2 linked regions of the Homo sapiens genome follow. The protein of the gene in region 1 purifies or fractionates together with the protein of each later gene. This does not show direct contact. Each region holds a gene or a part of one and is shown in the gene's direction. Other genes may lie near its edges. The genes, in order: ITPKB and ADNP2.

Region 1 (3,808 bases):
CCCTTGGCTCCTGGCAAGCTCTGAGGCTGCAGGCAGGGGGAATGTGCCTGACTCTTTCGTAGCCCAAGTCCTCCAATTCCTGAGTCCCTTGCAGGGGAGGATCTCAGCCCCTAAGCAGTGGCCACCATGGAACATGCCTCCTATGCCTGGGGTTTGTTCCTGGTGCTGAAGACTCCAGGGGGCTGCTCGGCTGGCCCGGCCAGCTGTCACTCTTTTCCAGCAGGCATTGAGGAACTCTGTGTACCTGTGTATGACGAGCTTCCCAAGGCAGCCCGGGGGTGAGACCCACAGAGCTGGCTTCTGGGGAAGATGGGGCACCCCCCAAGGCCAGCAAAGCTTGACATGGGTTTATAGGGCTCCATGGAGAGGGCACTGGGAGAGATATTTGTGGTTCTCTCTCTTACCCTGTCCTTTCAAAAGTCAAAGGTACTGACATTTATGCTGAGAAAGACGCCACAGCAGCCCTGCTCGCAGGAAGCTGCCTCTAGATGTCCGGCGTTTAGGGTAAAGCACATTCACGGGAGGGACCACTAGAGGCCGCATGGGTGTTCTGACACTGCCCTTCCCCACGCGGCGCTTAAAAATCTGGTCCTCTTTCTATTCCCAGATCGCCTATCGGGACCGGCTGAAGGCCATTCGAACCACTCTAGAAGTTTCTCCCTTCTTCAAGTGCCACGAGGTAGATACTGGGCTTTTGCCCTCTTGAGCAGAATGCTGCGCGTGCCAACAGGCCTTCTCCTTCTCCTTCCAGAAGCCCGGGGCATCGGGCATTTTCAGGGTGGTGCAGCCAGAGGCAGGCCATCAGGGACCAGACCCTCGCTGCACGGGGGAGCTGCGTCTCAATGCTTCCTGGGGTGACCACACGGGCTGTCCTGCCTGAGACCCCTGGCTATTGCCCCCTTTCTCCTCCCTTGTCCTTCCAGCTCCAGAGTCTTGTCCATTCTGGGCAGTGGTGGCAGGACTCATATCCCACACACCCGTGGTCTCAGGGCAGAAGCTCTCTGAGCTGCTAGAGTAGCCAGGCACCCGCCGACCGCCACCTACATCTTCAGATGAGACCCTGAGGAGGGCAGGCAGGTCTTCAGGTGCCACTCTCGGGCAGGGCTGGAATCTCCCAACTTTGCATACGTTGGTTGGCAGGGGCAGCAGGCAGCAGGTGGGGAACTGAGACACCTGAGAGAGGCTCTGGGAGGTGTCGGCAGGTTCCCTGGAGGGGTGTGAGACCCTGACATGGGGAGTCCAGGTCCCCAGCCACATGACACATTCACACACACATTCACAGATCCCACACTCATCAATCCTATACCACACACATTCACAGATCACACTCATAAACCCTACATGCACACACCTTCACAGATCACACTCAAACCCTACATGCACACACATTCACAAATCACACACATTCACACACATGCAGATCAATCACATGCATGCACACACATTCATACAGCACATTAACACAAGTCATACGTATACAAACACACACATGTATTCATATATCCACACACATTTTTGTGTGCACACCCACTCATACACAAACATGCATGCCTTTCCCAGTCTCACACACACACACACACACACACACACACACACACACACACAGAGCTGCAGTCCTGGGGCTGGCTAATCCCATGGGTGGGTGGGTGTGAAGCGGGATCCTGCGGCTCCCTGCAGCTGTGTAGGTAGTTCAGGAAAGCAGCCCCTCTCGTAGGGACTCTCTTGTGGAGGTCCTCTTGTATGGGGTCTTACATGGAGGTGGCCTCAGCCTCAGCCTATGCCCACAGAGAAGGCTGCGGAGCCAGCAGGAGGAACTCATAGGGTCAGCCCTGAGGCAGCCAGCAGGGCGGTGCATCTTTCTGCAAACTACACCACCAGGCCTCCTCAGGCAGATGGTCTACCTTGCTCTGCATGTCATTCCCTGCGGGGCGCCTGGAGAGGATGGCTGCGAGGAGGGGGTGGCACACCCAGAGAGGAGACTCAGGCTTTGCTGTGCCCCTAGCAGGGAGCTCGGTCCTTCTCGGAATGTTCTTTGCTCTCCTTGTCCCCCAGACCCTCAGCTCCTCCTGTGGCCTCTCCTTTCCACTTGATGAAGCATCCTCCTGCCACCTGCCAGAGCCCCCTTTGCCCCAGCTGCCTCTCTGGACGATGGGGGTGCTGCCTGGCTGCCTGACCCCAGGGGCCAAGCCTGGGAGAACTTAAGGCCACAGAGCTCTGTCTCAAAGCCGTTCCCACCCTTCTTCAACACTTCTGCTTTTATTTCTTGGAAAAGCATTTTGTTCTACACTTTTTGGGGTCTCCCTTAAGGTCTAGAAAGAGGCCAAATCAGCTTGGGTCTGTTGTTTTCCACCTGCGAAGAGGAAGCCCCTTTTTTGGGCTCAGCCTCGCCAGGGGCCCCACCTGCCCTGCACTGCTGGAAGCTGGAATGTCACCTGAGCCCTTTCTGTGCCCCCGGCCTTCCTCTGGCCCCACTGAGGTGATGCAGGGGTATGTGTGGCCATATTTGGGAAAGCGCCTCGCTCCCATGCAGAGGCTCTGAGCTCACCCAGGAGGGGCAGGCTCTTTGGTGCCCACTATCCCTGGGCCAGGCTGGGAAGGCCCTATAGGGTCTGCCCACGCTGAATCTGCAGGGGTTGTGCTGCTGGGGTGGGGGTGCTGTGTGCATTTGAAACAGGTTCTTCACCACCCCCGCCCCGGGATAGTTTGGACGCTCCTGGGCACCTTCCCCTTCACTGTGGTTCCCTGCAGAGTGTTTGGGAGGAGTCAGGTTCTAGGAGGCGGAAGGGCGAGGCCCCAGATTGGGTTGTGGTCTAGAAAGAGTGGAAAGTTTGCCCAGGTGCAGTGTGATTCATGCCCGTAATCTCAGCACTTTCCGAGGCCAAGGCAGGAGAATGGCTTGAGCTTAGGAGTTTGGGACCAGCCTGGGTAACATAGTGAAACCCTGTCTCTACAAAAATAAAAAACAAAAAGTTAGCCGGGCATCGTGGTGCATGCCTGTAGTCCCAACTACTCGGGAGGCTGTGGTGGGAGGATCGCTTGAGCCTAGGAGATCAAGGCTACAGTAAGCTGAGGTTGCACCACTGCACTCCAGCTGGGGCGACAGAGTAAGACCCTGTCTGGAAGGAAGGAAGGAAGGGAAGAAAGGAAGGAAAAGAAGGAAGGCAGGAAGGAAGGAAAGAAAGAGGGAGGGAAGGAGTGGAAAGTGTGCAGGCCAGAGTCAGGGGGTGAAGGGGTGCCTGCTGCTGCCCACACAGAAGGGTGGTCGCCGACCCTGGAACCCGATGCCCTCTGCCCAGGCATGGCCATTCTTGGGCCGGCTCTGCTGCCTGTCTGAAAATGGGGATTGGAATTGCAGGCACCCAACTGTCCGGCCTGAGCGAGCCTCCCCACCTGGTCACCCAGGCCCCGGGCCGCAGTGGGGAGGGCGAGGCCCGGGCTTCAGCTCACCCTTCACCCCCATGTTCTCCTCAGGTCATTGGCAGCTCCCTCCTCTTCATCCACGACAAGAAGGAACAGGCCAAAGTGTGGATGATCGACTTTGGGAAAACCACGCCCCTGCCTGAGGGCCAGACCCTGCAGCATGACGTCCCCTGGCAGGAGGGGAACCGGGAGGATGGCTACCTCTCGGGGCTCAATAACCTCGTCGACATCCTGACCGAGATGTCCCAGGATGCCCCACTCGCCTGAGCTGCCCACGCCCTCCCTGGCCCCCGCCTGGGCCTCCTTTCCTCCTCCTGTGCTTCCTTTCTCGTTCCTAACTTTTCCTTCACTTACACCTGACTGACCCTCCTGAACTGCACTACAAGAC
Region 2 (4,608 bases), on another chromosome or scaffold:
CGAGTTTGGAGATTAAAGAGCCCGTTTGAGGAGTAGTGGTGGTGGGGCGGCTTTGTTGCGGGAGGTCTGTAGGAAAGGGGGATTGGTCTGTAGTAACAAATGGAAGATAGATACAGAAAGACGAGGCCTAAAATCTGTTTTGGGCTCAGCAATTAGGAGGGCGCTGGTGACCAAGGCGTTTCTGCAGAGTGGTGAGGGTGGGGGCGAGAGGCGTGCAGGGGGCTGAGGAGACAGACACAGGGACTGCTGTTTTGAGAAATGTGATAAAATGAGAGGTCACTAGAGGATCAATGGGAGACTGCAGGCTTTAACTACACTTTTCATCCCACCCATAATTTTGCAAGGAAGATATATAGGGACATCACACCCATTTACCACTGTAACTCAAAGTAAAATCTTAACTTGTCAGCAAACATAAAGGGCAAACTCTACTTCAATTATGACTTGTATTCATGTAGGAAAAAAGCAAATTTTGGTCAGGTCATATCGGCCCACCATTTAACACAGTTTTAAAACGAATATGGACATTAATTTAGTGCCTATTATGTGTTTAGTCACTGGGCTAAACTGAGCAGAAGGCTCCCATTGAGAGGGAAAAGCTGAAATTATGGACGAGCGGATGGTGACAAGGAGGCTCTGGAGAGGGCGGTGGGCGGAAGGCCCAGCCTGGGCACGGCCTCTGCCCCGCGGTGGCTGGAGTGGGCCTCAGGGCTGGAGGCTGGCGGCGGGTTGCAGGGGCTCGGCGCTCTGGAAGGAGACGTGGCCTTGTGCTGAAAGGGGCACGTGTCCTGCAGACGGCTTCGCCAAGAAGGAACTGCCTGGAACAGCCACTGAGGGCGCGGCTGAGTTAGGGTCAGGGGAAGGAACACTGGAGGGGAGTTAGGGTCAGAGTCAGGGTTAGTGCTAGGTGAGGTTCAGGTGCAGGGTCAGAATTAGGGTTAAGGTTAGGGGCACTGGGGGAGGCGCCTGCGCTGCCCTCGTGGTTACTCCCACGTGCTCTGGGGCACGAGGGCGTCCGCCAGAGGCCTGGGGACTCCACGGAACGAAGACCTAGAGCCATTTTGAAAGCCCTACGCCATGTTTCCACTAATTTTGTGGAATAAATTATTATTGCTACACAATTGATAAACACCTGTGCAAAAATGAACTTTTAGGTTAAGAGTTTATACAAATGTATGCAATTAACCCTCTCCCCACACAACTTGTAGTAGATCTAAAAATCAGAATTCTCAAGAGAAGGTGTGATCACTTTCCCACAGGAATGATGAAGTCAGGAGACCCCAGCTAGTCGGTTCACCAGGATATGCCAATCATGGCACACTTGTCCCAGTTCTGGGAGCCAAAGTTTTGTCTTCCAATGGCAAGGCAGCATTATCACAGTTGGGCTCCCATTGGCTCTGAGATGTGGGCGGGGTCACCACTCCTGGAGCTGCCACTAGCTCCACCCCATTCCATGCAAATGAAGTCAAAGCTGTGGTGAGTCCACGTGATTAGTCACATGGTTGATGACACACTCTCCCCACCCCTTTAGTGACGTCATTGCCCACTCAAACTCTCACGAGAGTTTGCACAGATGTGGAAAGGAGCTGGCAGGGCAGTTCCCTGGGACAGAAGGGAGTCAGGGGGTCCAACAGGGGCCCCCCACTGCCACCCCAGAGCCTCCAGTCCATCTTTAGCCAGGGGCCCCGGGGGGCCTGTGGGAAGTGCCAGGGGCCCCCAAGCACACTCTGCTCTCATTGGCTGGCTGCGCCTACATGCAAATGAGGGCCAACGTCACTTCCTGAGGCCAATCGAGCGCCATTTTCTCTTTCTGGCTGCGCGGGAGGAGGGGACCAGTCGCGCTGGGGGTGGGCGCGCGCTGAGGCGGGGGTCCCGCCGCGCGGGGCGGAGGCGCGGGCGGGCGCAGGCGGCCCCACGGGACGCGGCTGCGCTCGGCGGAAGACGCGGCAGCCCTGCGAGAGGCAGCAGCGGAGACGCGGTGCTCCTCGGGCGCCAAGCGGTAGGTACGGCCCGGCCCGGCGCGGGCCCGCGCGGCGACGCCCCCTGCCCCGGTCCTGGCCCCCGCCCCAGTCTGGTCCCCTCCGAGCCCCGCCCCCGCCGGTACCCAGCCCACACCCACGCCCGCCGCCTGCCCTCGCGCCGCCCGTGGCCGCCTCGGGAATCCCGGGACGTTCTCAGGGCGCGGGTTCGCGGCCCGAACGGCGCCCGTCGACCCCCGACGCGCCCGCGGCCCGCCCCGCCCGCCGCCGGTCACGTGGGAGCGGGGGCCGCCCCGGGAGGGCGGAGAAGGGGATGGGGACCTGAGGGGAGAGTAGGAATAGGGGAAAGACGAGGACGGGGACCGAGGGAGAGAGGGGGGCTGGTGAAGGGAGCGAGGAGTAGAGGGAGAGGGAACGGGGATGGAGAAGAAGAGAGGGGGCAAGGAGCTGTGGCGACCCCTGTAAGGACTCCAGAAACGCCCCGCCCGCTGGCCCGCCCGCCGCATCCCCGAGACCGGGTTCTCCTGGAAGCTTCTCTCTGGAGGAGCCTTGAGTGACGGCAGATGTAGGTCAGGAGCTGACGGTGACACCTAAATCTGCCCAGGTTTTTTTTTCCCTAGAAAGGTTTGAAGAACAGCTGATAACGGGGCCCTGTTTCTTCATCGTTGAGCTTTTGATGCGAATATCAATAATTGATATACAGATGTTGACTTTAACATTACTTTTCATCTGCCGTTGCTGGTTGCATTGAAATAGATTCCGTTTACAAAATTTCTACTACAGTTGACTTTGGAATGTTAATTTTAACTGCCCTTTTAAATACTGTACAGATGCAGAATGAGAAATAATTAGATATTTTAAGTAGTTTATTTGAACAGAAGACTTGCCTGCGTGCTTAAAACTTACTCTATTTGCACGGGTAATCACTGCCTCTTGGGATCTTGAGGAATATACTGGCTGTGGAGGAGTGGGGTGGGGGAGGAGAAACTGGTAAGCAGGTAACTGACAATGCAGATTGGCAAGTGGGGCAGCAGTTTGTAGAGTACTGTGGGCATCTGCCACGCAGAGCCTTTATCAAAAGAGGGGGTTTGGAGTCTGGGTACCATTTTTGGGGGTGAGGAGCATTAGTGGGAGAGAGGACCACATGTAAAAAGAGTTGTGTAAAGTACATGTTCAGCTGTATTTGGAAGTCGGTAATGTATGTGTAACTTATTTAAAGATGTTCTTGGAGAGTTGGCCATGTATGAGTGTGTATTAATATTTCGGTTAAATTTCGGTTGGAGTTAGGACTTCACTGCGAAGACAGCATTGAGCCCGTCGTCCTTAAACATGAAGTGACAGATGTGTGTTAAGAAAGGAAGTACAAGAGTGAAGATGAGACAAGAGGTTGTCCTACCGGCCCTCTAGTTGAGGGGAGGAACAGTGAGGGTTAGGACATGTCTGAAAGGAGTTGATCACTGTTTATGGGGGAAGATGACAGCTATGCTAAGATTTTTAGCTGAAGAGATTCTGGGATTTGGGAGACACGTTTTTAATTTGAACCCAAGTTTGCAATATGCTGTTGGTTAATTTATGATTGCCCTCATAAGTTCACCAATAGCATATTGCAAACTTGGTTTCTGCCCTGCCCTTCATCCTCTGGCTATCCTAGACCTGTTAGGGCAATGTGTTACATAGGTGGAAACCGGTATCTCCCAGTGATTTGAACCCAGATCTGCTGAATATATGATCCAAGTATTCTGTGTTTTTAAAGTTGCTTTTTAAAAAGTCCTGTATTCCAATAGTTGGGACATTTCATTTAGTTTTTTGGAGTTAATTAATAGCAAACTCAGTGCTTATGTGCTGTTTTGCATGTATTAACTCATTTATCCTCATAACTACTCTGTGAATTAGGTCATACTCGCCCTGTTTTACAGAAGAGCCAGCTGAGGCCTGGAGAGAGTAAGTGATTTCCTGAAGATTACACAGCTCATAAATGGTGGAGCTGATGTAAACCCGGGCACACAACTCCAGAATCCTTTTTGGTGACCATCGTTTTGTGCGATTTCACAGGAACTAAAAAAAAGTTCTGTGGCTTAAAAAGTATTGTTTATTACTGTATTACCTGAATGACATTTTTTTTTTTTTTTTTTGAGACGGAGTTTTGCCCTGTCGCCCAGGCTGGAGTGCAGTGGTGTGATCTCGGCTCACTGCAACCTCTGTCTCCCGGGTTCAAGCGATTCTCCTGCCTCAGCGTCCCGAGTAGGACCCAGCCAATTTTTTGGTAATTTTTAGTAGAGACAGGGTTTCACCATATTGGTCAGGCTGGTCTCCAACTCCTGACCTCAGGTGATCTGCCCGCCTTAGCCTTCCAAAGTGCTGGGATTACAGGTGTGAGCCGTTGCACCCGGCCAACATTTTCTTTTAGAATGTATTTTTTTTTCTATAATAGAATATCCTTACGAGATCATTATACTAAAAAATCCCCAGAGAAGTCCTTTATGTACCCTTTTGGGAAATAATATTTTCTTGTGCATATCAGTGGAATTTTATGGTAGTTCCATGCCTACCCTAAACATTAGGAATTGAGATTTATTTTGAATTGAAATTGATAGGTTGGTGCATGATGTGGAAATAGTTGGCCGCCCCG

Evidence for each region.
Region 2: the proteins of ITPKB (region 1) and ADNP2 purify together in Homo sapiens (affinity purification with mass spectrometry; one large-scale study listed by BioGRID and IntAct). This does not show direct contact.

Annotation. Positions count from the first base shown.
Region 1 is NC_000001.11:226,634,550-226,638,357, reverse strand, and holds part of ITPKB (inositol-trisphosphate 3-kinase B), read left to right. Parts: intron 1-607; coding exon 608-679; intron 680-3,471; coding exon 3,472-3,687; 3' UTR 3,688-3,808. UniProt on the Homo sapiens protein: Catalyzes the phosphorylation of 1D-myo-inositol 1,4,5-trisphosphate (InsP3) into 1D-myo-inositol 1,3,4,5-tetrakisphosphate and participates to the regulation of calcium homeostasis.
Region 2 is NC_000018.10:80,107,474-80,112,081, forward strand, and holds the start of ADNP2 (activity-dependent neuroprotector homeobox protein 2), read left to right. Parts: upstream 1-1,788; 5' UTR 1,789-1,999; intron 2,000-2,417; exon of another isoform or gene 2,418-2,548; intron 2,549-4,608. UniProt on the Homo sapiens protein: May be involved in transcriptional regulation. May play a role in neuronal function; perhaps involved in protection of brain tissues from oxidative stress. May be involved in erythroid differentiation.